4 separate regions of the Homo sapiens genome follow, and regions 1, 2 and 4 are each linked to region 3. The links come from fine-mapping of genetic effects on gene expression. A gene starts in region 3. Each other region holds a variant in brackets. All regions are shown on one strand. Distances are from middle to middle.

Region 1 (8,240 bases), 22 kb after region 3:
ATTACAAAGTTATACATTAGACAATGCGATATTGGAGAAAGGACACCCATATAAATCAATTGAATAGAATCAATAATTCAGAAATAGACCCAAAAATATATGGTCAAATGATTTTTGATGTTAAGGAAAAAATAAAAACATTTTAAGCTGAGGAGATACAGGACAAATTATTTGCCCTCATGGAGCTTACCTTCAAATGGGCAAGACAAATAATTTTTAAAGTAAAAAATAATTCAATAGTGAAATTTGGGCTGGGTGCAATGGCTCATGCCTGTAATCCCAGCACTTTGGAAGGCTGAGGCAGGTGGATCATCTGAGGTCAGGAGTTCAAGACCAGCCTGGCCAACCTGGTGAAACCCTGTCTCTACTAAAAATACAAAAAATTAGCTGGGTGTGGTGGCAGATGCCTGTAATCCCAGCTACTCAGGAGGCTGAGGCAGGAGAATCACTTGAACCCAGGAATCACTTGAAGGCAGAGGTTGCAGTGAGCCGAGATCATGCCATTGCACTCCAGCCTGGGCAACAAGAGTGAAACTCCATCTCAAAAAAAAAAAAAAAAAAAAGCTGGGCGCAGTGGCGTGTGCCTGTAATCCCAGCTCCTAGCTACTCAGGAGGCTGAGGCAGGAGACTAACTTGAACCCGGAGGCGGAGGTTGCAGTGAGCCAAGATCGCACCACTGCACTCCAGCCTGGGCGAGGAAGAGAGATTCTGTCTCAAAAAAAAAAAAAAAAAAAAAAAAGAAAAAGAAAATTGACAGTAGTGAATGCTATGAAGAAATAAATCAGGATAAAGGCATAGAGAATGACTTACAGTGGTGCTATTTAAATAGGGTGGATAGAGACGATTGGTGGCTGAATAGAGCTATTGAATAATGAGAAGGAATCAACACGATGGGACCTATTTTTAGGTCTACTCTTTCGATTCTTTTTAATTTTAGGTCTACTCTTTCACTTATTCTTTCAAGAAATATTTGTTGAGCACCTATTATGTGCTCAACATAATTATATTATTCTAGGTGCTGGAGATAGAACAGTAAATAAAACAGACAAAACCCCCAGCCCCCATGGTGCTTACTTTTTTTTTTTTTGGTAGGGAAGCAAAAAATAAACTTCACAAATAAGTCAAATGGATGGTATGTTAGTGGAAATGCTAAGGCAAAAAAAGGAAGAAAGGGATGTAGAATATGTGTGAGTGTGCGTGTGGGCGTGAACGGGTGACGGTGGCTTCTGTTTAAGATACAGTGCCCAAGAAAGGCTTACCTAGAAGATGACGTTTGAAGGAAGTAGAGGCAGTTATGGAGGCGGCAATGGGCAAGATGGTTCAAAAAGAGGGATAAGCAAGTGCAGCGGCCCTGAGCTGGAGCGTACCTGTGAGCTGGCATGAAGCCTTCAGGGAGAGTGGAGGGAGATAAGATAATGTGTGTGTAGGGGTGGATGGATCCTATGGGGCCCAGCAGGTCATTGTAAGGCGTCGGCATTCATTTAGAGATGAGACGCCACTAGAGATATGAGCAGGAGTGGCCTGATTATGTTTTATTCGGATTGCTCTAGCTGTGTTTTAATTAAAACTATTTTATAAAGAGAGGAAAAAACAATTTTGCTTTTCCAAATCAATCATGTTTATGTCTTTGAAAGAGGAGAACAACAAATCACAGAAAACATAAATAAATGCATTTTGTTCAGGGACAGATGGCTGAAGCAACGAGAGTGAATCACAGAGTCACAGAATCACAGTTATGTGCAAAGCACTCAGGAAATAGCTTGGTCCCTAATTAATCATTCCATGTTGTTAAACTCTGTGGAGATAAATTTAGCCAGCAGTAGGTAGAATGAGATGAATTCTCATGAAAACATGTTTTCAATGAAGTTGGCAAAGAATGCTGTGTAAACCCCAAATAGCTGAAACTATGTCCTAATAGCATTGAGCTTGGTGTGCCACATCCTTAGCAATAACCACTTGAGTGTCTGTCCCTGGGGCCTGCAGATGAGGATGTTAACATCTGATTTAGCAGAAGGGGTGGGGAGAGTGATGGGGGACAAGGGAGAGAGTCCTGAAACATACAGGTGGTGACCCTAGGAGCTGACTTTGGTGCCATTTAGGCATATTTGCTTTCAGGACTCACACTTCCTTAGGTTTAAGCTATCAATAAAAGGAAAGTGGTTTCTAAGTCCTAGCCTTTGGACTGTATTCCTTTAATTCATATAGTGGAGCAGGGGGAAAGTTATCATTTTAATGGCTGGTAGCACAATTCCGAGAAGAAAACTTTTTTGTTTATTTAATCTTAGATAAGCCATTTGAGTGTTAAGAGCTATGGCCCACGACAGGGAAGGGATTTGAAATGTTTTAGATAATAAAGTGAGGAGAATTTGGGATTTGCATCAGAATGACGAAGGGGAAGTGGGGGAGGGGTGATACACTAACACCAGTGGAGAAGAAATCCAGGGAAAAGGTGACAGAAATCCTGGCCACTGAAGGGCTGGAGCCTGAGGCTAAAACAGTGCCAGGGAGACCCTCTGGGGTGACAGCCTAAGAATTTTTGATAACAAGGATATTGGCAGAGCAGTGGTGAAACCCTCTCCCCTTTTCCCATTGCTTCTCCCTCCTTTGCCCCAGATTCCCACTCAAAGCCTGTGATACATACTGTTGTTCACTGTGGTGTTCAGGTATACTGAGGGGTAGGAGAGTGAAGAAAAGGAGAATGGTTTGCAAGTGGGGTTAATGTGGGCTGAGAGAGAAGAGGACAGCAAAGAGGCGTGAGACACAGGGTAAAGAAAGCATTCAGAGTAAAATGGACCAAGAGGTGAGTAGGAGAATAAGTTACCCCAAATGCCTCAGAAATATTTGTTGGGAGGACTCTGCTATATGAGACTTAAGCCCTTTTTAAAAAAATAAAATAAAATGAAAAGGTGATTCCCAAAAGGTTGGTGCCTTATGAGGCTTCATCTGCATAGGATCCCTGGTTTCACAACTCCTTATCTTGACCAGACTTTCTATTGATTCCAGGTCTTTAGACAATAACTTAATTCTTTCAACCAACTGTCAATCAGAAAATCTTTGAATCCACCTATGACCTATGACCCCTCCCCTACTCCACCCCACTGATTTGAGTTTGTCCTGCCTTTTCCAACTAAACTAGTATATATCCCACATGTATTGATTAATATCTTTTGTCTCCCTAAATGTATAAAAACCAAGCTATAACCCAACCACCTTGGGCACATGTTCTCAGGATCTCTTGAGACTGTACCTTGGGCCTTGGTCATTTATATTTGACTCAGAATAAACCTCTTTAAATATTTTACAGAGTCTGACTCTTTTCATCAACAGCTGGAATATTTGTTTCTTGATCTAATGATGATTACACAGCAGTTTTAAGTTTGTGCAAGTTTATTTGGTTTTATACTTACAATATATACACTCAATAAAATATGATATACCTCAATAAAAATAAAGCAATGCCTTCCCTGCCTCCAAAAACAAAACCAACCTGGGAATACAAAGATCAAATAACAGTGCCTGCAGAAGCTTAGAAAATCGGCACAGATGTGACATTTGACTCAGTTCAGCACACATTATGGAGGGTTACTATACAAGGGAGACTGCACACAGAGACCATACTCAGGAGCCTGAGGATCCTGAATCACTGACCTAGAGGGAAGAAGTACCAGCCCCTATCTTGAGGACCTCATATTACAAGGCAGTAATAGACATGCAAAAATTAATAGCAACAGTCTGATTCTGGCAATTGGCTGATATGCCAACTCTTACCACTTTTCAACATTGTGCTAGATATGTAAGTGGCAGAAAGACTGAAAAGGAATAAACAGATTATTATTTGCATTCTATGCTCTTATTTACTTAGAAAATCCAGGAGAATCTATACACTATTAGAAAAAAATTACACTTATAAAACTTACTAGATAAAAGATCAGTATCAAAAAAATCAATTGCTTTCCTAAACACCAGTACTAACTAATTAGAAAATGCACTGGGCACAGTGGCTTAAGCCAATAATCCCAGCATTTTGGGAGGCTGAGGTGGGAGGATCACTTGAGCCCAGGAGTTCGAGACCTGCCTGAGCAACATAGCAAGACCCTGTCTCTGAAAATGCAATTTTCCAAATTTTCAATAGGAACAATTACATAAATGATTATAATATATATATATAATTTTATATATACACATCTATATCTGATGTTATAAAGATGTGCAATACTTGGAGAAAAATTTCAAAAATTTTTTGCTGGGTATATAAGCTCTAAATATATAAAAAGATATACTATATTTAAATACTAAGGGATAAAGTATTAAGCATTCAATGAATACTGGAAAAATGATTGGATGAGTTCATATTGGACAGAGCCACATCTCGGTCTTCTTTTGGAATCCTTTCTTCATATAGTACCTAGAATAGTGCCTGACACTGTGGGAAACCAAAATATGTCACCTCAAAATATACTTCTTTGGCGTATTTTCAGTTGGTTATTCAGAGAAGTAGCAGACAGGAATAGTTCTGAAAAGCTGTTCTTTTGGGGGTAGATTTGCATCTGTAGAGGAAATCTGCATTGGTGAGGTAAAGAACAGACACAGAGGCTTTCTCTGAGGTCCACCTATCTGGATCAGGAAAAAGGAACTCA[A/G]TAAGAAAAGGAGACTAAAGACCTGATACTTTTTTTTTTTTTTTTTTTTTATACTCTAAGTTTTAGGGTACATGTGCACATTGTGCAGGTTAGTTACATATGTATACATGTGCCATGCTGGTGCGCTGCACCCACTAATGTGTCATCTAGCATTAGGTATATCTCCCAATGCTATCCCTCCCCCCTCCCCCGACCCCACCACAGTCCCCAGAGTGTGATATTCCCCTTCCTGTGTCCATGTGATCTCATTGTTCAATTCCCACCTATGAGTGAGAATATGCGGTGTTAAGACCTGATACTTTTAAAGTTTGGACAGTGAAACTTTTGCTGCATCTCTTCCTTCTGAGGGCTGCTCCCAGAGAGACTTCATCTGCATCACAAGACAGCCTTTGCTCACCATGCCTTTCCTCCCCACACCCTCTCATAATGTGTTGCTACCTCCCTGCAGGAGCCTTTAGGACCCTATTTCTTTCTGTAGCTTAAAATGCTATTGAAGCTTCAACTATCTGGCCCTTCTTTGATTCTTCGAGTCTCGTAGTTTGTGTGGCTCCTGTGCACATGTGCATGTGATAAATGTGTATACTTTGTCTCCCATGAATCTGGCTATTGTCAGTTTCTTTTATAGACTCAGATTAACAAACTTTCAGAAGGGTGGAGGCGGGCGGGGGGTGGGGTGGGGAGGGAAATCCCTTTGCTCCTACAGCAAAGTAGTAGGGACTCAAAAAATATCGAAGAGAAGAAAACAAAGGAGAGGAAAGGAGGAAGGGATGAATAACTTTATTTAAATGAGAAAAGTGGCACTGAGTTAAAAATTATTAAATATTTTGAATTCTTTATGTTATTACAATTTTTACTTTTGCTAACATCCTCTTGCTTTATTGTTGTAATAATGTGTGCTCATATAGTCATTAAGAGTTTACAAAACTGTGTCAATTAGGTCCATATAACAATGAAAAAGCAGCAGCATCACTGGAAAATCTCGAGGCTCTTCAAGGTTAAGGGGCTTGCCTTAGATGACAAATAACCTGACTGTTACTCAGACCCAAGTTTTTTGACTTCAAGGGCAGCGACTTTGTACTCTACAGATGCCAATCTAAATGGGCTGCAAGCTAGATGTGTAGGCTATGGATTGCCATCCTAATTGGGACACTTTTGAGAGCAGAAGTAGGTGTTATCCATTATGTTGGGACAATAGGTGTAAATTGGTACCATCTTGGGTACATCCAAGGTACAGTTTACCTTATCTATGGCTGAAAACTGAGTTTAAATTAATTCTTCTTACGGGCAGCACAAGTCAAAAAGCCCTTTGCCAAGCTGCACAGATTGTAAATGCTGCTCCTGGCTGTGTTCAATGTATATTTGGACAAAGTCAATAATAAATAAATAAAGGTCAACTATGAATTAAGGTAGGTTTGTTAGTTTGTTTTTTGGTAAAAGGAATGTCACTTGCTTAGAGAGGTTAATATACTGCATGTGGGGCAAAGTTGCTGGTAAGTATCATTCTTCCTTCTGTCCTTCGAACCCCAAATGACACATCTTGTTCACGTATCCACTATGGTGTAAGACATCACTGGGTGCTGGCTGTAATTTTATCTTCCTTCTTAAAGTCTTTATAACGTGAAGATAATGAGTGGATCTGTGCGAAACTCACTACCAGGATCAGCCAATACTTGTTTTTCTGTGGAGCTTTTGGTGATTACTTTAACTGAATAGAGTTTTTTTTTTTTAAACAGCAAATCTTTCAATGTATTAGCAATTTTAAGTAAGAATCTCTAACTTGTAACACACACTGAACTTAGAGTTTTGTTTTTTTTCTACACATGCCATTTCTGCAAGTGAACTTAAGAAATTTCAACTAATATAGAAGACTTAATCAATTCTCAATTACATGTTGTAAATTAACCTGCTAACAGGAACAGGTGAAACTCTCTTAACATTTTAAGGACATAAAGTAATCAAATATGCAGATTTAACACAAAACCATTAATATTATGGGGTTCTTTTCAATATTTCTATGCTTAATTTTAAATCTTTTTTAGGATAAAATTGTTTTCCAACTAAGAAAAGTATTGTCATCCTATTTTGTGAGATACCACTAAGTCAAATGAGATTGCGTAATGACCAGAGATATTATTAGTTGAGGTGCTGACTGTATTTTTATCTGATATACCAATGAGTCTTTTCACTTGGGTAAATATGTAGGAGCTGGATTTCTGAGTTGAATGGTAAGTCTGTTTTTAACTTTGTACTAAACTGGGATTTTGTTTTCCAAAGTGGCTGTACAATTTTGCATTCCAACCAACAATGTATGAGAGTCCTAGTTCTGCATGCTCATCAGTAAATAGAATTGTCAGTTGTTAAATTTTAGCCATTCTAATAGTTCCTACCCTTTTTTAGACCATATAGGGTAATGACATTGCCATGGCATCTGTAAACTGTCATGGCGCTAGTGGGAGTGTCTTTTGGTATGCTAATACATTATAATTAGTGTATAATGAGCAATGATATCGAACAGAGGTCACTTTCATTGCCATGTGGGTTTGGGTGGGTTTTGGCCAGCTTCTTTACTGCAACCTGTTTTATCAGCGAGGTCCCTTCTGACTAATGATGTTAAGAATCTTTTAATGTACTTATTTATAATCTTTCTATCTTCAGTAAAATGTCTATAGAAATTATTGGTCCATTTCTTTATTGAGTTGTGTGATTTCTTAATACTGAGTTTTGAAAGATCTTTATATATTCTGAACTCAAGGCTTTATTGTATATCTCATTTGCAAATATTTATCCAGTGCATGGCTGGTCTTTTAATTTTCTTTTTCTTTTTTCTTTTTCCTAACTGCTAGATGATGTGGGAGTCTTTTCAAATCCTTAGCATCTTTGGAAGAGCAGAAGTTTAAATTTTTGATAAAATCTAATTTATCTTTTTTGAGACAGGGTCTCACTCTGTCACTCAGGCTGGAGTGCAGTGGCACAATCATGGCTCACTGCAGCCTCAACCTTCAGGGCTCAGGTGATCCTCTCACCTCAGCCTCCTGAGTAGCTGGGACTACAGGTGCCCACCACCATGCCTGGCTAATTTTTGTATTGTGTGTAGAGACAGGATTTCGCCATGTTGCCCAGGCTGGTCTCAAACTCCTGGGCTCATGTGATCCACCTGCCTCAGCCTCCCAAAGTGCTAGGATTAAATTTATCATCTTTTTTTTTTCTTGGATGGATCATAGTTTTGGCATCTTCTTAGAAATCTTTGCCTAATGTCGTGATGATTTTCTCCTATGTTTTCTTCAAAGTTTTATAGTTTAAAATTTTAGATTTAGGTCTGTAATACATTTGAGTTAATTTTTTGTAAAGGGTATGAGTGATCAATCAAGGCCCTCCCTCCTTCCTTTCCTTCCTTCCTTGTATATTGAAATCCAATTATTCCAGCACCATCTGTTGAGTCTTCCTATTCATGAACAGGGACTGTCTCTCCATTTATTTAGTTTCTATTTGATTTCTTTCATTAGAGTTCTATAGTTTTCCTCATATAGATCTTGTACATAATTTGTTGGATTTATACCGAAGTAGTTTGGTTTTGGGGGTGCTGGTATAAATGGTATTGTGATT
Region 2 (8,240 bases), 52 kb after region 3:
ACCTGGGTGTATGTGCACATGCGGATGCATTGTGTACATGCAAACTCAAATCCCCATAGCATCCAGCTAGGAAGTCTAAATGAGCAAAGCAAGTTGGGTATAAGAAATAAGAAAGTGCTGGGAGCTATGCTTAATAGGAGACACAAGCCTCAAATAGCAGAACAGCTGCTGCTCTGTTCAGTGCCGGGTGATTTTTGCTGTGCGGGAAGGTGAACTGAGATGCATTTTCTGGTATTTCAAAAGAAGCTGAAAATCTAGATTTACTTTTTGAATGTGGAAAATTCTGCTTTTTAAATGTTGGCAACTATTTCAGAAAGTTTTTATTAATCATCATGTATGCCCAATCTGTGTTGAAGGAAATGTGTCTGTGGACTGCACACAGTCCATACCACCAGGTTGCAATTATTTCTGTCAACCTGAGCTATGCTGAGTCCGGTGGGCTAATACAGATGAGGCAGGGCTGTGTCTGTGTGGTGTAGAGCATGGAGTCAGTCTGTGTCCTGAGCTGTGATGAGATCATTCTGTGAGAGTAAATAACTGAGCTTGTACTTGAAAGTTGAGGACAATGTGGAGAACAAAGAGCTAAGAGCACAAGCAAAGGTCCAGAACTAGAACATCACAGGGTGTGTTTTGGAGACTGGATGATTTGAGTAAAGAATCATGAAGAGCAGAAGTAGTTATCAGGCTAGAAAGTTAGGCTGGAGCCAGATAAGGATGGGCCTGAGTATTTGGAATATATACTGTTGGCAACAGATGACTAAATACTCGGGTTCTCTTGAAGGAGTACAGGGCAGAAATCAGGAGATAGAATGAGAAATTTGACATTTACACCAGAACTTTCCAGCCACAAAGAGCAAGGTAGAGTCAATTAATGCACTGAGTCTAGTTAGAATGATTGGGTTAAGGTGAGAGTGGCCATTCCTAACACTTAGCAAAACAGTGTGTATGCATATGCCTGTGTGCAGTTATTTGATTATACATACACTTTCCAGCTGGGCTAGGCTGGCCTATCTGGGCCCAGTCAACTGCTGTGGACACTGAGCTTTAACACCAATAAGTGCGTGCCGTATTCATCCTCATTCTCATTTCTTTCTCAGTGCCTCTTGACCCTCCAAGGATTATTGCACTGATCCAGAACTGCTAAAATGGAGAAAGCCAGGCCTGACCTGTGCGCACAGCACACAGCATTGATATTTGATGTGAGATTAGGTCAGAGTCAGCCGGGAAGCCTTCTAAAGCGTGGCATACAGCCAACAAAATGAAAAGGCTTTATTCTGGGGGGAAATGTTTCCCTCTCTGCCTGGCTTGCTTTCCTTATCCTCCCTTAGACATCCTTTCCCCTAAATTCTAGTTCATTATTTTCATTTGAAACTCTCAAATTCCACTGGGCCACTAGCTGACCACATTCCTCCCTAAACAATAGCATTCTATTTTAAACACTTATTGTGCCAATGTTGACATTTTAATAGCCCAAGAGGGGCTGAAATAACTACTCCTACCTCACCACCATCACCAAGGAGATCAAGTATCATTTCTAGGATTTATGGTAAGCCCCTCACGGTGAAAGCACAAAAATCAGAGGCCAGGAAATTGGCAGCTACGTATTTTAAATAGGATTTCGGTAATCTTTGGCTGGTCTTTCCTAACAATGTTGAAGTTGATATTTTGTAACTTAACATTGGTTCTAGTTCTGCCTGGTGAGTAGCTCTAATCTCATTTTCATTATGTGAGAAAACACTTATTAATTAGTAGAAACTATTGGCAAACTTGATATAGTTGTGAATGAATAATGTAAATCCCTAGTGGGGCCCTTCCCAAACCCTTGCTCCCCTTCCTAAATAAGCAAACAGAGGGAAATTTCTGATTTTAGTGGGATGATGTACCACTGATTACCCAACATTGCTTATGACTTTACCATTAAGATTTATAATGAAAACTCTTTTATCTATATGTAACAGGAATTAAACTTTATGCAACAAGTTAAATAACAAACTTTCTCGATATCCAAATGAGTGCTTTCTTTATCCAAGTTCATCAGTGTAGGGGAAAGTCCTAACCTTATTTCAAAAATGTGCAAAATATTTTGTAATAACTAGGTAATTCTAAAAACATATAAGGAATTATCTGAAGTTAAGTGTGGTGAGTGAAGTGGATGATTGATAGTCATTTGGGAGCAGTAAAGTGGGTAAGAGTAAAAATTAATGAGACAGTCTTCTTCACGTGGTTCAAAAAACAGCTTCTGAAGGCAGTTTCCCTGGAAGAGCTCCAGAAGTGTTCTTGTATGTGGCAGTAAAGAAAGACAATACTCCTGATGACTGGTAACCAAGTAATGCTGGCTTAAACAGTTACTTATGTGATAATCAAACTTCCCTTGCTGATATAAAAGTTTTTATGTATTCTTGGTTTGATCACTCCTAATTTGTCTGCATGCAAGGAGAACCAGACTTAAGGTAGGATCCACTCATTTACTGACTGATTGCTTATTGAATGCCTTCTCTGTGCTGGACAGTAGGAGTAAGATGAGGAGCACTGTGGACTTTGTCCCTGCCCTCATACATTTATGATAAGGGGTTGTGGGGTCAGGGCATGGAAAAAACAAAAGGCAAATCTTTAAGACAAACTGATTGGAAACGACTGCTATTGGTTAAATACACCCACATGTTGAGATAATTTGTACTTTCCCAAAACATTATCTTGATAACATTATAGTCCCAGAAAGCGTTAGGGAATGTAGTAATGAAACTTTGGCAGGTCTTGTGCCTCTACAATGTTTGTGTTGCTCATGACCTTTGTACATGAATGCTTTTGCCCATGTGGCCAGTCAAAAAATGACCTGGTTGACCTGTTTTTCCAAAAGACCTTTGACCAAATCTTTGATGGACAAACAGAGAATCATGTTTTCAAGAAGGATCTACTTGCAAGCAAAGTTCTATAGTGTAGTCAGGGAAGGCTCTATGAAGTAATGAACTCTTCTGGCAAAGATCTGAAGGATGAGTAGAAAATAGTCTGGTCATGAGCTAGGGGAAGTGATTTACAGGCAGGAGTAACATGTGGAATACAGAATAATTTGACTTTAATAAATTTCAAATGGTAAAAATTTTCCAAAGTTCAAAATAGAAACATAACATCCCGTGATATTAGAAAATCTCATTACTTTACTTTAGTCTGGCCAGAAATGTGTCAAGAGGAAGACTTCAAAGAGGTAGATTTCATCTCTCTGGCCTGTAAACAAAATGCCCAAAACACTTCCCCAAGGCTTAAAGTCAGTTTGTAATTACTCTTTTCATCACCTCAGAAGAATTTCCAAACTTTAGTAACGTAGTAAAATTTTTTTTGGCCTTTGTGAATAAATACTATGAAATTTGGTTCAAAAGATAAAGCAAAGAGCAACTGAGGTCTTCAAAACATCATGTATCTAGAAGGTATTACCAAACATCCGTTTTTTTTAAAAAAGCATAAGGCATAAAATCAATTCACTAATGTCATGCTAGAGTGAGGTAGTAAAATGAGGCAACTCAGACCAGATGGTGTAATTCATAAACAGGGCTGTCATTTGGGAAAACGGGTGGAGTGGATGGAGAAATTAACTTGCAGTCTTTCCCCTTCCATTTCTTCCCAATCCAACTAACCTTATTCCTCTGGGTCATTTAGCTGTGGCTAAAACACACACACACACACACACACACACACACACACGTGTGTATATATATAATATATATATAATATACTTTTTACTTATAGCCATAGGTAAATGGTGAATGAAGTAGATGATTGACCTGTGTGCATAGCACACAGCATTGCTATTTGATGTTTGATGAAATATCAATGCTCTCAGAATAAATAATTAAATGAGTGTATATATATAGACACACACACACACACACACACACACACACACATATATTTCTTTTTTAAAAGAGTGTAATTGATGCCAAAGCCACTTTCTCTTCAGAGCTGCTTAACTACATGAAGAGTGTGCACCAACCTGGGGTTGCAAAGAGTTCTCTACCTTGTCCGGCTTCTGGAAAGGATGTGCGCTTTGCTCAATGGGGAATGGATAAGATGAGGATGTCCCACTGCTGGTTGGTTAGTACATTTTTGTAGATGAAGCAAAGCACATCTGTTCTTATACAGAATCTCATCTTTAAAAGGGACCTCAGATAGCATCTAATTCAAAAACTCATCTAATGCAGTGCAGTATTCCTCTAAGATACATACATAAATGCTGGCTAAATGCCCCCAGGGATGGAAGTTTACTGCCTCACAAGGCAGCCAATTATCTTTCTGACAGGTGCCATTCTTCCTAATACTGAGGTAAAGTCCATTGTTCTTTAGCTTCCACAAAAAGCAGTGATAATACTCTTGACGGCTTGCCCTGTGCCAGGGTCTGTGCCAAGGAGCTTCATATGCATTGTTTGTAACACTTGCAACATTAGTGGCAGGCAGGGATCATCCTGCACATTTTACAGGTGAGGGAACTGGCACAAGGTCACACAGCTAAGAGAGAAGGATCTAGTCTGGCTAAATCCAATGCCTAGGCCAATTTCTTGACACCATGCATAATTCCTGTTTCAAATTTCTATATGTGAAGGCACCTTTTAGACTCTTCTGTTTTCTCATTGATTTCTCATATGGCATGCCTTCCAATGCTTTCAGAATATGCTATGACAGTATCTCTATAAAAATATAAATCAATACAAAAGTTATTGACCCCTAGAAAATGACAATCACATACTTCAATTAAAATGAGTAGTACAAAGAGACTTCCTTGAATCTTTTAATAATGGCATTTATTTTTACATAATAACAGCAGCATATTGGTTAAGACATGGATTTAGGTAGATTTGACACCTGGTTTCAACATTCATTAGCTGTCAGATTCGGG[G/A]CATTTTATCTAACTTCTCAAATTATCAGTTTCTCACTTACAATGTGGGGATGATGATGATGCCTATGTTTTAGAATTGTGAGACTTGACATAGTACATATAAAGCACTTAGTATGATGCTGGCACTATCTTCAATAAATGGTATTATTATTTCTTTATTTGCAGCAAACCAAAACCCGTATGATTGTTGTCAAGTAAGACTTCCCCTACATCATGTTTGTAAATTAGAATGTTAGCTATAATTATAAGAAATTGAAAAATTCATGTTGTCTAATCAATATTACATTTTAGCCAGTAGTTTCAGCCAGGATCTTGGTTCTCTCATTAAATATACTGGTAATCTTTTTCAATTTTGTGTCACCTGCAATTGTTAAACATATTTTCAGTATCTTTATCCAAGTTGTTGCTAAAAGTGATTGAACAGGGAAATCAATGTTTGTTCCCATCTGTGGGTGCTGTTAACAGCTTCGTATGTGTGTTTTACAGTCACATATGTAATTTTCCCTGTGCTTTTCTGTCTATATCATACACTTGTTGTATCCCCTAGTGATCTCTGAAGTTTTAAGCTGTCTTTGACCTATGATTCTGTACATCTCCTGATATTGACATAGCTGAATCTATTAACTAACTTCTAAAATGGAAACCAGGACACCTGGGGCTCAGCACTAGCCTTTCCCCAGTGTACTTAAGCCCTCTGTGGCTCCATTTTTCATACTTTTAAAACTGAGCAAATATTTGCCCTCTCCTTCCTTTCAATGATATGGTGAAAATGAATTTAAAGCAATTATAAAAAGGACATGTGTTCTTATAATTGGTAGCATATCATTTACAGAGAAATTCCTCATCTGGTCACTATCTAAGTAGCTAAACAACTAAACATTAGCAAGAGAAGTCTTTGAGCAGTCAATGTAAATGACACCAAGTCTATGCATTTATCATGTGCTTTACTCATAGACTCATACTTATTCACAGTCCCATTACATACACACATCTAACAAGCTTGTTTATTTCATTTCCCAGTCCACAGCCAAATAGAGGAAGAAAGTGGATGGAGACTGCCCAAAGTGGGTAAATTGAAAGTAGCAAGAAAAGGCCAGGTGCGGTGGCTCATGCCTGTAATCCCAGCACTTTGGGAGGCCGAGGCGGGCAGATCACGAGGTCAGGAGTTTGAGACCAGCCTGACCAACATAGTGAAACCCTGTCTCTATTAAAAATACAAAAAATTAGACAGGCGTAGTGGCGTGCACCTGTAATCCCAGCTACTTGGGAGGCTGAGGCAGGAGAATTGCTTGAACCTGGGAGGTGGAGGTTGAACTGAGCCGAGATCGCACCATTGTACTCCAGTCTGGGCGACAGTGCGAGACTCCATCTCAAAAAAAAAAAAAAAAAAAAAAAGTAGCAAGAAAATAATCATTTTGAAAGGTGAAAAAAAAAAAGACAAGAGAATTATAAAAATTAGAAACTCAAAAAGTAAAGAAGCCTGAGACCACTAATTAAAGGGGAAAGATAGCCTTAAACATCAGTTTTCAAGAACATTACTGAATTACAAGTTAATACTATAATTGATGTTCAAAATGATTATTCATTATTGTGTTGGACTTCCGTGTTTTCACATGCTCAGCATTCATTCTGCTCTCCTCTGGAGGCAGCACTATGATTTTTCTTCAGAAAATTACCCTTCCCAATTTGTATTCTGTTCCAAAGGAACCATCATGTAAGGAGCTTTCCCATCTCCTGAACAAGGCTGAGCTTATGGTCCAAGACAAGTCAGTCACCTTTTTGCAGGAATTTGGATGTTGAGCAGAGCCAACACAAAGCTACTGGGCTGGCTCATCCTTATGGTGGTATCCTGAATTCTTCCCTTCCACGTAGAACCCTGGAGCTGCATGGTCCCTGACCTTTTCAAGACTGGTTGTCCAATTTTCTTTTAATTTGGAAGACTACTTTAAAACATTCTAATAAAATATGTTAGTCAAAGGTGGTCTTTGGCTGCTCACAGCTTGTGTTTCATAACTGACACAGATTCATTAAAGGGATCAATTTTGTTCTATATGCAGTGTTCAAAAAGCCACAGATATTTGTAATAAAAATTAAAAATAGGCCAGGCATGGTGGCTAACACCTGTAATCCCAGCACTTTGGGAGGCAGAGGCAGGAGGATCACTTGAGCCCACCATTACGAAACCAGCTTAGACAACATAGTGAAACCCCATCTGTACAAAAATACAAACATTTAGCTGGGCATGGTGGTGTGTGCCTGTAATCCCTGCTGCTCGGGAGGCTTGAGGTGGGAGGATTGCCTGAGCCCAGGAGGTTGAGTCTGCAGTGAGCCATGATCACGCCACTGCACTCCAGCCTGGGTGACAGAACGAGACCCTGTGTTAAAACAAACAAAACAAAAAACCCCCCAAATTAAAAATATTTCCATCCAACTTGGTTAAAATAGAATTGAAAACCTTTAGCATTAAAGGGATGTTTCCATTATAAATAAGTTACTAATTTCCTAACCATACTAGATGAATGAGTTGTTATTGCATACAAATCCAAAAATTATTACATTTTATTGTAGCTTGAATATATCTTGGTGAACTCATTTTCTTAGAGTGGCTCTGGTTAGCTCTTTATTAAAATGACAACTGATGTCACAGAAGCTGCCTGAGGACACATCTAAAATGAACATGCTTTTAGTGGTGGTTAAAATACTTTGAACAGTCAACAAATATTTACAGCTCTTTTTGTGTAACGTGCTGTACTAAGTGCTGGGATAAAGCAGTGAACGGGGTGGACATAGCCTCAGAACTCCCGGAGCTTGTGGTCCAATAGCTCAGTAAAGGTCTACTGAATGAAAGGGAGACTTCCCTTTGCTCACAATGAGGTCATTCCTCATGTTTTTGCCAATGTATTTTTCCTGCCTGGATAATCCACCCTCTGACCTTTATCCACATCCTTTACCCATTTCTTTTTCAAGGTCCAGATCAAACAGCAAGTTCTCCACTAAGCCTCTAACAATAATAACACTGATGGCAGCTAAACATTTATTGAGCCTGATGCTAACCTCTTTACATGGATTACATAACTCATTTCTCACAATGCACTATGAGATATTTACATATAATTCTTCAGTAACCCAATTGAGGGGAATTGCAGGGCAATTAAAAAATACGTATAACTTAAAATGTTGAACTCAGCATGCCCAGAACTACTAGAATCTTTTTGAGCATAGAACTTAAAATGTAAGGTGCGAAGAAAACAATTTTATATTTTACTGTGCCTCAGAATTGCTTGGTGGGGTCTTTTAAGAAATAAAGATGCCAGAGTACATTGTCAAAATTTCCAACTAATTAAAAACACACAAG
Region 3 (8,240 bases):
CTTGTGTGCACTGCCCTAGGTGTTACCATATATATATATATATGTTTTATATATATTTTTTTCTCACTTAATTCCCCCAAAGATTCTGAGACAGGTTTTTGTAAATCTTACCTCAGGAAGCTAAAGCATGGAGAAATTTACCCAGAGCTGGAGCTTGAGGCTATATATTTTTTTTTTTCTGAGGATAGGGAGAGATGATACTGTGTATGGTAAACTTATTAATATTTGTTAATTCAGCCAACATTTTGTGTATACTGTATGCAAGATGCTAATAGATATGCTGGAGAAAATTAAGACAGTGAATGGATTTGATGCCCTGTGAAGCATAAGAGGTTACTGTTATTTCTAATTACTACAAGAATTCTTGCTTCTTGGTGCATAAGATCTACTGTGGGGAATAGTACAAGTGCTGACCATCTGACTTTAGAGCTGAACAGTTTGGGACTTGATCTCAGCTTCCCTATTCACTGGTTACTGGGAGCTTGTTTTCCTATCTGTAAGATAGAGGCAATAAAACCTAGCTTATCATGCGAGACTATTGAATGCAAGGAGAGAATATTAAAATTCATCCCAGTAAGTCCACTGTAGTCCTAGGCAGCATGACAGAGGTCACAGATCTTACAAGTAACATATCAATGGCAAGTTGGGGATAAGGATTTGGTTTTTAGGGTTTTACTTTCTGTTTTTGATGACTCTTATTTTTGAGAAAATGTGGAAGGAGTAAGTAGAAGAACAGTTTTTTTCAGTGCAACATCAGGCAAAAGAAAAGCAGATTTTTTTCAGATGGTTAAAGCCTATGGCAAAATAGCTAACTTTCTCTTTAAGGTGATTGGTAACCTGGAAAGGACAGCTGGCGTGGGCAGAAAACTTGTTCAAGACAAACACTGTCCCAGCATTTTTTAAATTCCAGACATTACCCTGGGGCAAACACCTCAACTTTTTCTTTCATACCACCTTCCAATATCTTACTCCTGAGCCTAGGGTGCTCAAACCAAACTCTGCTTCTGATGTGTTGTCAGTTTTCTCTAAAATCACTTATCTTCTGTGGGACTGGAGTCAGGCTGATGTGGAAGGCTCCCGCAAACCCTATTTAGGCTCTCTGGAGACAGAATGGGTGGTTGGAAATGGAAGGGGGAATGAGGGAAATTTAACCCCATAGAATATCTTCCCCATGAGAGTAGCTTAGCACTACACGAAGAAAGCTAAAAACCACAGACTTCCAGGGCTTGTCTGATACGCAGGTTCCCTTGAGTGCTCTAATAGGTATTAGAAATAATATGATAGGGAAACAAGCTCTTGTAGGGGAGGAAGAATCTTTTTCTCTACCTATCTTAGGTTCTCCGGCTGGGTCCTTGTGCATTAGACTGGCCAAAGACAGATGAACAAAAGTAAAGCAAGTTTATCAACACGTGCGTTGTTCATATAGGTAACATGGGAATACTCAGAGATAAGCAACTCAAAGATTTGGTTAGAACTTGGGTTTATACAGCATATTAGCCAAGGAACAATAAATTTTTAAAGAAATGACAAGATAAAGGATCTTGAGTCTCTAGGGGCAGCAAATTGTCGGAAAACAAATATATGGGAGACTAGTTGCAGATGAAGGCCAAATACTAAGGTTTATCATGTAGATTTTTCTTGTGTTGTCTCCAGGCTGACAGGGGTCTAAAATTGTCTCTGGTGATTAATCTTTGTCTTTCCTGGTAGAGCAGGAAGGAGGTACACCTTCGTAAACTTATATCCTGCTTTTTGGCAAATAGAGGGAGGGCAGAGTGCTTTTCTAGTACCGTGTACCTATTTGCTTCTTCCTAATTGCCTTCAGCTCAAAATAATCCTTAAACCAAAGTGGCATACACTGCCAATGCTCTTGAGTAGATTGAAGGCTCCAAAGTAAAAAGTGCTGTACTGTAGTATTGGATCTCCAAGCATCAGCAGTGAGTCAGGTATTACAATGCTGTTTTCAGTGAGTGTGCCATCCGTCTATGAGGAGAAATGAGAGGAGCTAGAAAAATAAACTGACAGCTAGAAAAATACTCCACTGAATCAACAAATAGACATTTCTTGAAACAGTAACATGCTCAATGTGCAATTTTGAAAAAGTAAACTGAGCAAGGATCATGAAACATGATGGTGGTGAGAATTTATACTTCTCAGGTAGCCAGGGGAAGCTAGGTTTCCACAGATTCCTTTGTCTTTCAGTCCTTTTGAAAACGGAGAAAAAGCAAGAGAAGAGGGACGGCACCATCAGGTAGAGTGGATCTCAGCTAGAATGAGGGGAAGTGGCCCAGAATCCAACCTCCTCCAAAGAGCTGTGTGACAGGCAAGTCCTATCCTTTCTGCACCTCTTTCCTTAAATGTAAGTTGAAGCATTTGGACCAGACTGTTTCAATGATCTTCTAGATTGCTTTTGCCAAAACAGAACTCTCCATTCCTGTAAGATAAGTACACAATGGCTCTCAGAGATCTAAAAACTGGCCTTGGTTACCTGCAAACTTTGAGGCCCCAAGGCACAAAAATAATAGCTTTTTTTTTTTATTTTTTTTTTTAAGGTTCATGAAAGCTTCGGACACAAAAGCTTATATGGTCTTCGTCTCTATAAATAAACCAGGGAGTAAAGAAAAACCCCGCTAGTTTCAGTAAAGCGTTGCTATTAAGCAAAGCAAACCTATGCAAATATCAAGTTCTTAATGAGGAGTGTTTCCTAAGGGGCCTGTCCTCTGGTACCCCGCCTCTCCTCTGCCACAGTCATGTGAAGGCAGACAGGCACACACTCGCACACTAGCACGCACTTGGGAGCTCAGGGAACATAACACTGGTTAGTGAGTCGGTGTCCCTCTCCCATCGATTGCAACTTTTCCCCTCCTTCCCTCTCCTGCCTCTCCCCACTTTCTACATCTCCGTTCTCAGGAAGGCTCAGGGAGGATCCCCCGCTGCGTGCACTGCGTTCTGAGAGGCCGGGGAGAGACTCTGGGCCCGCGGTCGGGGCGGAGCCAAGGTCCCAACCCACATTGAACGGGCTTGAGGATTACTTGGAGGGCTCAGGATCTAGGAGGAGGGCCCAGGGCACTGGGTTGGGGTTACTCTGGGAAAGCTCTGTGGGACCAGGTGGGACCTTAGGGCTGGAGATGGACTCTGCGAGCTGGGGGCGGAGTTCTAGACTGGCAGGAGCGGAGTTCTGGGTGGCGGGGGCGGGGTCGGGACCAGCAGGGACGGCCTCTGAGAGTTGGGGGCGGAATTCTGGGCCGGTGAGGGCTGGGGCGGGACCAGCAGGGGAGGCCTCCGCGAGCTAGGGGAGGAGCTCTGCATTGTCTGGGGCGGGGCTTCGAGTAGCGGTAGCGAGGTCTGGAGCCGCAGGCGCTGCCTCCGCGAGGTAGGGGAGGAGCTCTGTACTGTCAGGGGCGGGGCTCTGAGTAGCGAGGCCGGGTCTGAACTATCAGGCGCGGCCTCTGCGAGCTGGGGGCGGGGTTCTGCACCGGCGGGGGCGGGGTTGTGAGTGGTGGGGGCGGGGTCTGGAGCAGCAGGCGCCGCGTTTGCGAGCTAAGGTCGGAGTTCTGCACCGGCGGGGGCGGGGCTCTGCGTGGCCGGGGCGGGCTCGGGATCCGCGGGGCGACTCCCGGTCTGGCTTGGGCAGGCTGCCCGGGCCGTGGCAGGAAGCCGGAAGCAGCCGCGGCCCCAGTTCGGGAGACATGGCGGGCGTTAAAGGTACATCGCGGTCCCCGGCTCGCTTGTCGTGTGGTGGGGTTGCCACCTCCGTTCCGGTCAAGCCTGGGGCTGCGCCTTCCGCGCGCCGTTGGGGAACGGCCTCACCACCCTTCCCGCCTCTCCGGTTCGGGAGGCGATCGACCGCTCCCTTCGTCCCTTGGGGTGTGGGTGGAGCGGCGTTTCGGGGGAGCCTTGGCCCTTTTTGCAAGGCCGCTGGCCTTCCTGCTCTCCAGTGGCGGCACCAGACCCCTCCCCAGCCTGAGCCCTCGGCGAGAGCGGCGCCCTCCACCTCTCCTGAGTTTTTAAACAAGGTTTCCACTTCTTGACGCCACCCTAACGCCTTTCTTCTGGTTTTCTGCCCCTCCGCAGTTTCCTATTTGCCACAAAGGACCCTTTGTCTCCAGCGTTCTTAGCATTGGGAAACTTAATCCTCTTTTTCCTAATGATTTTTCCAACTGGGCAGAGTTGACCGCGGGCGGGTGTCAATGGAAAGCACCCAGAAAGACGGTGTTTCTCGCAGTCGTGGAGAGTAGATTACGTGTAATTTTAATACTGCTTTCTTCGGTGTTTTCTCTGTTTATGGACAGAGAAGAAACCAGTGTGTGTGTAGTATGTGTTTTTTGCATGGGGCAGTTGGTAAAAACACCGCGTCCCTTATCTGTATGGCTTCAGAGCAATGCGAGACGGAAAAGGTTTTTTGCAAGGCTTCCTGTATTTTGGTAGGAAAACATTCCATTTCTAATCTGTCGAATAGAGTAGCATGACTTGTTTTTATATTGGCTTTTATATCATCCTTGAAATTTGCACCCAAAGATATCCCCAGTTAACATCTGCTATAAACATGTAGATAGTATATATACGAGTACGCCTCTGTTCACTATGAATTTATCCGAGTATGTGAGCTGTTAGCAGCAGACATTTTATCGTTATTTCTGGCTGACTTTTATACTTAATATCAGTTTAGTAAACATGGTTTACTTGGAGAGTGTCGACTGTGTTATATATCCATTTGAAGCCAATGCCGAAAACAGATGAAAAGTAGTGTCTCAGTACTACACATGATCAGAAACTACCAAATCATGATCACGTTTATGTGTGAATGTGTTAGAAAATTGTGATGTAGTGAAAAAAAAGGAAGTCTGAAATGGAAACGGACTAAGGGAAGGAAGCATTTTACAGATTGTTCAACTTTTATTGAGGAACTACTGTATGCCAGAGACTTAGGATACAAAGATAAATGAGAAGTTATTGGTGGGTGACAGAGCTGGAAATAATTATATTACTATGTCAGTGTTTATGTTGGGCTCAGATGCGGTGGGAGAACAGATGGTGGGTTGGATTTTGTCCTCCAAAAAGATGTGTTCAAGCTCTAATTCCCTGGTACCTGTGAATGTGATCTTATTTGGAAGTAGTATCTTTGCAGATATAATCAAATTAAAATGATAACTGGTTTAAGGTGGGCCCTAATCCAATGACTGGTGTCCTTATAAGAAGAGGGGAATTTAGACATAGAGACATACAGGGAGAATACCATGGGAAGACGGAGACAGAAATTGGAGTGATGCAGCTACAAAGTCAGGAGCACCAAAGATTGTTGGCAACCATGCTGGCAACCACTGAGTGTTAGGAAGAGGCAAGGAAGGGTGCTTCCCTACAGCCTTCAGAGGGAGTGTGGTGGCGCTGCTGACACCTTGATTTCAGAAGTCCAGCCTCCAGAACTGTCAGAAGATAAATTTCTGTTGTTCTCAGCCATCCAGTTTGTGGTACTTTGTAACGGCAGCCCTAGGAAGCTGATGCAGGTGGGATTGATTCCCCTGCTCCAGAGAAAGGACTGTTTTCACAGAAGAGGCGATGCTTGAACTGAATCTGAAGGGATCAATGTGGCTTCCCTTGGCAAGGCATGGAGTGAAGGTGGAGTATATCCCAAGTGGGGAGGACAGCACGTGACATGGCGCAGGGCTTATGAAACAACATGCCTTCTTCTCTTCAGGTACTTAAGCTACATTAGTAAGACCAGAACTTAGTGGTGAGGGTTGAAGCTGGCTGGACAGGCAGTTAGGAGTGAGTCAGGCGATGGTGAGCCTCCGTGCCAGAACAACTTGTAGGCTGTGGAAGCAACCGCAAAGGGATGGCAGCGGTGATATATATAGTTGAAAGATCACTGTCTGCTGTGTAGAGGATGGATTGGAAGAGTCACAGAGGCAGGAATAAGAGGTTAAGGGCCTGCACCAGGGCTGTAGCAGAGAGTTTAAGAAGTCTGGGAGATTGAGTCACCTTGACCTACTGATTCATTGGAAGGTGGAATGCAATCATGGTGTCAGTCCTCTAAGATAGGACCTTTAAAGTGTAGGGATAGTGGTTTGGTTTTACACGTGTTACACATGTTGAATTTGAGGTTCTTGTTGGCGGTCAAGGCAGAGAAGTCCAGACTGGAGGTGGAAGTACAGGCCTAGTTCTTTAGGACCTACTCTGGGCTGGAGCATCAGTTGCGGCCGGGCCCTTGTGGTAGTAGGAGCTTTGGGTTGAACATAAGTTTTCAGCAGGAGTGCGTGGAGTGAAAAGAGAGATGGGGTTGGATTTTTGGTCAACTCCAACTTTAAGAGATTCAGAGGATGTGATTCCTGAAAAAAGAGGAAAAAAAAGACCAAAAAGAATCAAACAGAAAGATGGTTGTGAACGTTGAGAAACTGGTATCAGAACAGAAGGAAGAGGTCTGCAGTACCTAGCTTTGACAGGCCTCATGGAGGAGGGGGTACTGCCGATGGTCAGGCACAGAGGAGAGGAGCAAAGCCTGCTGGGAAAAGATCATCTGAATGAAATAGTATGTGGTATTTGCTTTCCATCCACACATGGGCATTTTCCATTAAAGAGTGGAAATGTAAAAAGATATGTTAAAATTGACAGTGTTTCTTTGTCCCTTAACATGTGTATACTTTCAGATGTTTTTTAAAAAGCACTTTGGCACCTTCCTATTAAAGAGTCTCTCTAAATCTTCTCTCAAGTAAAAGGAAGCAATCAAAAATGTTCATTGGCTTAATTAATTAGTTTAATACTAATTATGAGTATTATGGACTTTTTTCAGAAGAAAATTTGGATAAGATAGTCTCCTATGCTTTTGATTTCTACCTTTATCAAAGAACATTGCTAAAATGAGTAGATACCTGAGTCAGTCAGCATTTATTTGGCTACCTCCTTTTGCCAAGCACTTTACATAGATTATCTCATTTAATTCCCATAAGCTCAATAAGGTGGCACCATTATTTCCATTTTACAGGTGAGAAATCAGGTTCAGAGGATTAGCTTCTACCCAAAGTCATAAGACCAGATGGTGGCAGAGTTAAGATTTGACTCATGTTTGTGACTCAGAGCTCAAGATTTTGTAACAACCTTGATACTCTGTTTCTCACTCAGCAGCACAACAAGGGCAAATACGTTCCTACTCCCGCAGAGACTAGTGTCCAATAGATACAGGGAATACATATTTTATTCAGTGCACACTAGTTGGGAATTGTTTCCTACAAAGACATGAAAACAATCTTCAAATACTTGCAGTACTGTGGTTTGGGGAGGCAAAATGATCAAAGGTATATATTACAGGGAGGCAGTTCTGGATATAATTTAAAGAAGGAGGGCTTTCAACATTTAGAAGCTGTTGGAATTAAATGACTTGCCTTGGGAGGTAGTGAGTTTTCCTTCACTGGAGTTATGTGGACCAACTGGCTGCCCTCTGGTGACAAATACAGAGGGAATTCATCCATTGGATAGGGGTTAGGTACTGGAATTACTTGAGACCTTTGTATACTTTATGATTTCAAGGTGGCAGACATGGGTCATTGTCTTAATCAGTTTGGGCTACTATAAGAAATATATTTTAGACTGGGTGGCTTAAACAACAAACATTTAGTTTCCACAGTTCTGAAGACTGGGAAGTCCAAAATTGTGGTGCAGTCAGATCTGGTGTCTGGTGAGAGCCAGCTTCCTGGTTTGCAGGCCTGCTTTCTGCTCTCACATTGGAGAACAGAGGGAGAGAAACACAGAGAGAGTGTGTGCTCTACTTTCTCTCTTCTTATAAGGGCACTCATCCCATCGTGGAGACCCCACCCTCATGACCTCATCTGAACCTAATTATCTCCCAAAGGTCCACCTCCTGATAGCATCTCACGGTGAGAGGGATGGAGCCGGGAAGGTTTCAACATGTGAATTTGAAAGGGACACACATAATGCAGTCTGTAACGGGTCAAATGTAACCTCAATAAAATGAGTAAATTGCTACATTTGCTTGAATTTGGGACCTTTTTTTCTTTCTTTTTTATTTTAGTAAATGTTTTTATTGATAAATGATTCACATACCATAAAATTAACATTCTTAAAGTGTAAGATTTCATGGTTTTTAGTATATTCAGAAGGTTATGCAGCCATCACTACTATCTAATTCCAGAAAATTTACTCATCCGCCAAAGAAACTCTGGACCTATTAGAAGTCACTCCCCATTTCCCCAAACCCTCTAGTGCCTGACAACCTCTACTGTGGGAACTTT
Region 4 (8,240 bases), 50 kb before region 3:
TATTCTGAGAACAGTCTCAAATTTTGGTGTGCATCAGAATCACTTGGAGGGCTTGTTAAACACAGACTTCTGATTCAGAAGGACAAGGGAGGCATAAGAATCTGCATTTCTAACAGCTTCCTGGGGGCTGCTCCTGATGTTGCTGCGGGGACCACTCTTTGATAAAGCACTGATAACGCCATTCTGAAGTGGTTTGATCTAAATTGCCATTCTATAATGAAGATTTTAAATGCATCTCTTTAAAATCTTCTGTAATAAAATAACCTTCCAACTCTTATTCCATCTATTAGCTAATTCAGAACAAGTGAATTAACATCAAACAAAAATGTGGATAGATATTTTGTTCTTAATGTAAGGCAAATCTTTTGAATTATTTTTCTTGACTGGAGGCTAAGTCAGTGCCATTATTTTCATAATTTAAGGACTGTGGAACATCCTACACAATATTTCATAGAAATTTTATTTGACCTTGAAAGATCTGTGATAATCTGGAGCATTTTCCCTCTGAAAGTAAATAAAGATATGATATCATTATAGAAGCATTTATACATATAAAGATGTCTCTTTGTATAATGTTTATAAAAGGCAATCTCTATAAAGATGTTTTTAATGAAAGGCATCTATCAGTGTAACTAAAGATTTTGTGACTGGACTTAAGGGTTTACCAAAGGAATCAGAGATTACATATTAAACACCTACCCTGGGCTGCTCTTACTTGCCCTAGAAGAGGAGGGAGCATTTTTTTTTTTTTTTTTTTGGATACCTAGAACAACAGTTCCTGACATAGATAATCAATGTTTTTAAAAAGCATGAATGTGCTGCACCCATTAACTCGTCATTTAGCATTAGGTATATCTCCTAATGCTATCCCTCCCCAAAAATAAAAAATAAAAATAAAAAAGCATGAATGTGGAAAGAATTGTTAAACACTATAGATATAAAATAAATATTTGGTTTTTGTTCTCAAGACACCTAAGCCTAGTTGGCGAGAGAACCCAGGACGTTCTAAAGATAAGTACAAATAATATTTATAATACCTGCCAAGGGAGATTAGTAAAGGGAGACACCAGTGACAGCTGGACCTTAGAGCAGGAGAAAGGCTTATATAGGTCAGAGGAGTGGAGTCATTTCTTGCCTATACAAATCATAAAATATCTTGTGAGGCTCTTGATGATCTAGCCTCTATCTGCTCCTCTAACTTCATCTTTTACCATTCTTCATTGCCCAAAAATCATATGCTCCAATAGGGATAGGCATGTGCTCATGTGCACACAGACACACACAATCTTCTTGCATGAGCTACTCCTTCTCCCTTAAAAGCTACCCATGTCACACACCCTTCGTCTCCTTCCTTCCTTCCTTCTTCCCTTCTCTTTCCTTTCTCCTTCCGTTTTCCTTCCCTTCTCCTTCCCTTCTCCTTCCTTCCTTCCTTCTTTCCTCTTCTTCCTCCTCTTCTTCTTCTTCTTCTTCTCCTCCTTCTCCTTCTTCTCCTTCTCCTCCTCCTCATTCTTCTTCTCCCTTCCTCCTTCCTTCCTCTCTCCCTTCCTCCCTTCCTCCTCCTCTTCCTCCTCCTTCTTCTTCCTCTTCTTCTTCTTCTTCTTCCCCCTCCCCTCCCCTCCCTTCTCTTCCCTCCCCTCCCCTTCCCTTCCCTTCCCTTCCAAAAGAGCCTCACTCAGTTGCCCAGGCTGGAGTACAGTGGCATGATCTTGGCTCACTGCAACCTTCGCCTCCTGGGTTCTGATTCTTGTACCTCAGTCACCCAAGTAGCTGGGATTACAGATGTGTGCCACTATGCCCAGCTAATTTTTGTATATTTAGTAGAGACGATTTTGCCATCTTGGCCAGGCTGGTCTTGAACTCCTGGCCTTAAGTGATCCACCTGCCTCAGCCTCCCAAAGTGCTGGGATTATAGGTGTGAGCCACCACCCCCAGCCCATCTTCTTCTTTATTTGCCTAATTTTGCTAAGGAGAAGATTTCCACATGCCACGAGGCTTTTCCAATTCTCTCTCCTAAAACACAGGATTGCACTACATCTTTAGCTCTTCCAGATAGTCCTAGAATTTGGCAGAATGCAAGTGGATCCTCTGACCTGTCTCCTTTACCCTTAGTTGCATCTTAGGGAGGCAGTCCCAAAGCCGTAGTATTTCCATCTTACCTTTGTTTTTGATTTGCCTACATCTCTTTTCAAACTCCTAGACCTTTCTTTCCCCAGCACTAACACTGTGAATGGATTTGCATCTCATTGTTGCATGACTTAGAAAAGTTTTCTTTGTTTTTACCTTTCAGTTCATGAGGACTAGAACCATTTCTTACTCCTTCCGGTTCTGTGGAGTGCTACGTCTGAAATTAAACCTTATTTTAATAAATGTTGATGGTAGAGTCTACCATAAATACTAAACATGGAACTGGTTTTATTTGTAGATTCATAAGGGTGTATAAGGTCTTAGGAATTTTTTATTTATAAACTCGTGGGAGTCTGGATCTGCCCACATCATATACCTCTGTGCCTTGAAACCTGAATTCAGTCATTTTACATGATGATTATGTGATTGTTTGTATATGTTCAAACCTGCATTTGAGGATGTAGGTAGTGATGTTGGCAAAGACAGGCTGTTTCCAGGAAGATTTTACTTTGCTGAGGGTTGTCATTCTGTATTTCGATTCACTTTTATGCTTAGAAGCCACATTGGTTGACAGGAATTGTATGAAATGATCAATACTGTTTTCCTGATTTTTCTATTATGTATTTGCATATGTCACAGAATGTTAAAATAGGACTTTGTTTAGTCTCAGTTTAGCAGAGGCTACAACTCAAAACAATGCATAGCACATAGCCCAGCATTCAAAAGCGAAGTACTGGAATACCTATTCAGGACTGCAAAGGATGTATGAAACCTCAGGTGTTTTTATTTTTTTTTAATGTTTTTTGACTCTTTATAGCCAATATCCACCTTGAGGAAATAAGAGTACTGATGCTGACAATGAAGTCCTGGAGACCAACAAGATGCATCAGTTAAACCAGATGTTCATAATGACTCCTCTGTGTATGTAGATCTATTGCTAGGCTTCAGAGAGCTTAACCATCTGTTTCTGCTCCTTTAAAAAAATTATTGTGGTAAAATATACATAACATAAACTTATTGTAACCATTTGTAGCATAAAATTTCAGTGGCATTAATTATATTCCCAATGTTGCATAACCAACACCGCTATCTATACTTAAACCTTTCTCATCATCCCCAACATAAACACTGTTCCCATCCACTCCATGCATATGTGTGTGTATGCGTGTATACACTGGTTTGGTTTCTGCATAGAAGGTTTATAGCTGTGCCCCAGAATATCAGGAACCTTTACACATTTCTTGGCATTACTGTTGGCAATAAATGGAAAGCTGGATGAATGTACACTAAGTCTAACCTGATTCCAGAGTTCTTAAGTTCTGATTAATGCTATTCTAGGGCCACTTTGTCTCTCCTTCTTCCACTGTTTACCCAGGAAGGACAGTATGGTGACAGAGTCCTTCTAGCAGCAAAGAAATCTGCAGCCCAGCTGGTTGTTTTAGGCTCTACCCTCTTAACTATTTCTAAATGACATAATCTTCTAGGATTTCTTTCCCTTTGGGAACAATTTGATTTTTGGAAAATGTATTATCAACTTGGGTGTCTTAAAGGACTCATGATTGAAGGTCAATGTTTTTACCCCTTTTTCTTCCTGAGCACACCAAAGAGGTCGCTACAGCTCCCAGTTGTTTCTGCATTGGTGGGAGGTTGGTGGGAGATTGGCTGGAGTGGGAGAAGTTTATAGCTCATATTTCATCTCTCACTCTGCTACCATGCCTCAGTGTCAGGACAAGAAATAACTGGAGTGAAAAAAACAATCCCTGGCCTGGGGGCCAGAGGACCAGAGACTCCCACATTCTAGTTATGAAGCCTTCCATGAATTGAATGTCTTAACCCTGGTAAAATACAGCCATCACTTGAAGCTGTAACCACTCTACAAATGCAAGGTGGAGTTATTGTTATCAGTCATCAGACAATGTAGTATAATGGAGAGTGCACAAATTTTATTTTTTTAAACTGAGATGAAGCCATATAGTGTATACAAACTTTAGACTTTAAAAATTACCCTAGGTTCACATCTCAGCTGTTCTTCTTCCTGGGCAAGTCACTTTTACCTCTCCTTGGACTCGTTTTTCTCCTGTGTAAAATGGATATGCCAATAAGAGAGTGCCTATCTCACAAGCACTCTTAGAATTTTTTTTATAGGTTTGTTGTAAGGAATAAATTTGATAGCAGTCTCTTGCTTAGAGTCATCATGCAGTAAGTAGTAGCTATGATTAACATTGGTAATAATAAAATGCTACAATAAGTGATTGACTGAATTATCCCCATCCTCCAAAAATGGTGTGTGATTCATAAAACACTAGATGTAGCAATTAAGTCATACTCTCTGTAGAAGCATTCATTCCTATGCTTAGTGAATGGCTGCTTCTGCCCATCCTGTCTTGGGCAAGGGATGATGGAGAGATGAAAATTGAATGGCATCCAGCTCTAGCGATGATTTGGCTTCTTTTTCCCACTGGGTGGTATCATGGCAGTGCTGTAATCTGTATGGTGTCCTCTGATGCTAAGCAAGCCCAGGAGATGTTCAAGGTGTTCAGGAAAACTGGCGACAGCATTGCGAAGTGTCAGCTACTGCATGAAGCTGTGAACCCCAGAGAGCTACAAAAATAGCTTGCAGTGATTGAATTCCTTTTTTATTTTGTTGGTTTTGTTTATGCCTTAGTGTTTTCCCCTTTTAGACAGAGCACATGCTTTTAAAAAATTCTAATTGTATGTTTACTTAATGGTGTATAATTATATATCAAGTAAATATATAATTATGGAGTACTTTAAATTAATATTATTTACTTGATTGAGTTAATGATTCTGGAGCTATTAGCCTATTGTGCTAAGAATAATTTAGCCAACTTTTAGCTGAGACTCATTACAGATATTGACATTTGG[GGT/G]GTGTGTGTGTGTGTGTGTGTGTGTGTGTGTGTGTGTGTGTCATAGCCAGTTTTTAAAACCTTCAAAAATATTGCTGGGGAAATAAATTTTCTATACTTTCATTCTGTTACAGTCTAAAAAAAACCCAATAAAATGGGTTCACCTGTTCCCTCCTCAAGATATGGTACATGTGGACAAATCTTATTATAAAAATAGATTGCCAAATGGGGTTCATTCCTTTATTCTTTCACTCATTCATTCACTCAGCAAATACCTGCTGAGCACCTACCATATGAGCAACACATGCACAGTGGACACTGGGGTTACAAAAATGAGTAAGTTATGGTCTCTCTTCTCATGGAGCTTGGTGTCTACAAGGGGAGACAGGTATAAGCAGTTTATTCAGTACAGCTTGACCGCAAGCTAGCATTTACTGTGTTTATGTTGTGCTACTTAATTCTGACAACAATCTTGTAATGCTCATTTATACTTTACACACTAGATAATTGAGGCCTGGAGAGGTTAGTAAATTGCCTAAGGTTAATCAAGTAGTAAATGGTAAATCCAGAGTGAAAATCCAGCCTGTGGATTTAACCATGTTGTTCTACTGAAAAAAGCTGTAATAGATGAAAATAAACTGGGGCATGAGTATAAAGATGACTAAGCGTTTCTGTCTGTGAGTATTAGAGAAACAGTCAGAGCCAAGAGAACACTTGAACATTTTTTTCTTTTTTAAAAATTTGAGTTAAAATATGCATATATAATGTACCATTTTTACCATTTTAAGTGTACAGTTTAATTACATTTATATTATTTTTTCCTCCTTCAAACCCTCTCCCACTCCTCTTCCTGGCCTCTGGTAACTACTAATCTACTCTTTATCTTCATGAGATCCACATTTTTAGTTTCTGCATATGAGTAAAAAACATGCAATATTTATCTTTCTATGCTTGGGTTATTTCAGTTATAATGGCCTCCAGTTCCATCCATGTTGCTGCAAATGACAGGATTTCATTCTTTTTTATGTGAATAATATTTCATTGTATATGTATACCACATTTTATTTATTCATTCATCCATTGGTAGGCACTTAGGTTGATTCCATATTTTGGCTATTGTGAATAGTGCTGCAATAAACATGGGAGTGCAGCTTTATATTCGATATATTGATTTCCTTTCTTTTGGATATATACCCAGTAGTGGAATTGCTGGGTCATATGGAACCTTCATACTGTCCTCTATGGTGATTGTACTAATTTACCTTCCCACCTACATTGTATAAGAGTTCCCTTTTCTCACATTTTCACCAGCATCTGGTATTACCTGCCTTTTTGATACAAACTATTTTAACTGAAGTGAGATGACACTATATTGTGATTTTGATTTGCATTTCTCTGATTAGTGATGTTGGACATTTTTTCATATAACTGTATGCCATTTCTATGTCTTCTTTGGAAGATCTGTTAATTCTCTTCAACTCTTTTGCCCAGTTTTTAATTTGTTTTTTTTTTTTATTGTTGAGTTGTTTGAGCTCCTTATATATTCTGGTTATTAATTTCTTGTCAAATGAATAGTTCACAAGTATTTCCTGCCATTCAGTGGGTTGTCTCTTCACTTCGTTGATTGTTTGCTTTGCTTTGCAGAAGCTGTTTAGCTTCATATAGTCCCAATTGTGTATTTTTGCTTTGGTTGTGTGTGCTTTTGAGGTCTTCCACAAGAAATTTTTGTCCAGATCAATGTCCTGGAACATTTCTCTAATGTTTTCTTCTAGTCATTTTATATTTTTGGGTTTTGGATTCAAGTTTTTAATCAATTTTATTTGATTTTTATATATAGTTAGAGATATAGGTCTATTTTCATTTTTCTGCATATAGTTACCCACTTTTCCCAGCACCATCTATGGAAAAGACTGTCCTCTCCCACTGTAAGTTCTTAGAATCTTTGTCAAAGATGAATTGGTGGTAAATGCGTGGACTTATATCTGGGTTCTCTATTTTGTTCCATTAGTCCATGTGCCTGTTTTTATGCCAGTACCATGCTGTTTTGGTTACGGTAGCTTTGTAAAAAACTTTGAAGTCAGATGATGTGATGCCTCTAACTTTGTTCTTTTTGCTCAGGGTGGCTTTGGCTATTTGGAGTCTTTTGTGGTTCCACATACATTTTAGGGGTTTTTTTTTATTTCTGTGAAGAATGTCATTGGCATTTTGATAGAGATTGCATTGAATCTGTACATTGCTTTGGGTAGTATTGCCATTTTAACAATATTATTTCTTCTAATCCATGAGCATGGAATACCTTTCCTTTTTTTGTGTCCTCTTCTATTTCTTTCATCAGAGTTTTACAGTTCTTCTTGTGTAGATCTTTCACTTCTTTGGTTAGATTGATTCCCAGGTATTTTATATTTTTTGTAGCTATTGGAAATGGCATTGGTTCCTTGATTTCTTTTTCAGATTGTTGGCTGTTAGTAAATATGAATGCTGTTGATTTATGCATGTTGGTTTTGTATTCTGCAACTTTACTGAATTCGTTTGTCAGTTCTAACAGTTTTTTTGGTGGAGTGTTTAGGTTTTTCTAGCCATAAGATCATGTTGAGTTCGAACAAGGGTAATTTGACTTCTTCCTTTCCAATTTAGATGTCCTTTATTTCTTTTTTTGCCTAATTGCTCTGGCCAGGACTTCCAGTATTATGTTGAATAATAGTGGCGAAAGTGGGTATCGTTGTTGTGTTCCATTCTTTAGAGGAAAGGCCTTCAATTTTCCTCCATTCAGTACGATGTTAGCCATGGATTTGTCATAGATGGCCATTATTATTTTGAGGTATGTTCCTTCTGTATCTATTTTCTGAGGATTTTTTTTTTTTTGAGACGGAGTTTTGCTGTCACCCAGGCTGGAGTGCAGTGATCTTGACTCACTGCAACCTCCGCCTCCTGGATTCAAGCAGTTCTCCTGCCTCAGCCTCCCAAGTAGCTGGGATTACAGGCACCTACCACTATGCCCGGTTAATTTTTGTATTTTTGGTAGAGACGGGGTTTCACCATGTTGGCCATGGCTGGTCTCAAACTCATGACCTCAAGTCATCTGCCTGTCTCAGCCTCCCAAAGTGCTGGGATTATAGGCGTGAGCTGCCGAGCCTGGCCTCATGAGGATTTTTATCATAAAGGGATGTTGAATTTTATCACATACTTTTTCAGCATCTATTGAAATAATCACGTATTTTTTGTTCTTGATTCTATTCATGTGGTATATAA

Alleles and levels. Alleles are on the strand shown, and positions count from the first base shown. SD is a standard deviation of normalised expression in the study named. Not every link is listed here.
As copies of A replace G in region 1, the expression in subcutaneous fat of the gene that starts at base 3,630 in region 3 goes up (small effect, 0.21 SD a copy in GTEx).

The links. PIP is the estimated chance that this variant, and not a neighbour inherited with it, causes the effect.
Region 1: its variant is the best candidate, but not a certain one, in a credible set for the expression of LEPROT in subcutaneous fat (GTEx, PIP 0.77).
Region 2: its variant is the best candidate, but not a certain one, in a credible set for the expression of LEPROT in blood mononuclear cells (TOPMed, PIP 0.68).
Region 4: its variant is the best candidate, but not a certain one, in a credible set for the expression of LEPROT in monocytes (Fairfax 2014, PIP 0.88).

What each region holds. Positions count from the first base shown.
Region 1 is chr1:65,439,286-65,447,525 of GRCh38, forward strand. The region is part of intron 2 of LEPR (leptin receptor); the gene reads left to right. Among named protein-coding and RNA genes, the nearest start is that of LEPROT, 23 kb to the left of the region's middle. RefSeq lists a silencer at 1,241-1,535. The variant A/G (reference allele first, on the strand shown) is at 4,638.
Region 2 is chr1:65,468,750-65,476,989 of GRCh38, forward strand. All of the region lies in intron 2 of LEPR (leptin receptor), which reads left to right. Among named protein-coding and RNA genes, the nearest start is that of LEPROT, 52 kb to the left of the region's middle. The variant G/A (reference allele first, on the strand shown) is at 4,886.
Region 3 is chr1:65,417,039-65,425,278 of GRCh38, forward strand. LEPROT (leptin receptor overlapping transcript) reads left to right here and starts at 3,630. Exons shown (of 4, transcript NM_017526.5): 1 at 3,630-3,702. The coding sequence starts at 3,687. LEPR (leptin receptor) reads left to right here and starts at 3,630. Exons shown (of 20, transcript NM_002303.6): 1 at 3,630-3,702. RefSeq lists enhancers at 2,944-3,476, 3,477-4,010, 4,084-4,133 and silencers at 3,124-3,193, 3,214-3,713.
Region 4 is chr1:65,367,136-65,375,375 of GRCh38, forward strand. All of the region lies in intron 4 of DNAJC6 (DnaJ heat shock protein family (Hsp40) member C6), which reads left to right. Among named protein-coding and RNA genes, the nearest start is that of LEPR, 49 kb to the right of the region's middle. The variant GGT/G (reference allele first, on the strand shown) is at 5,011.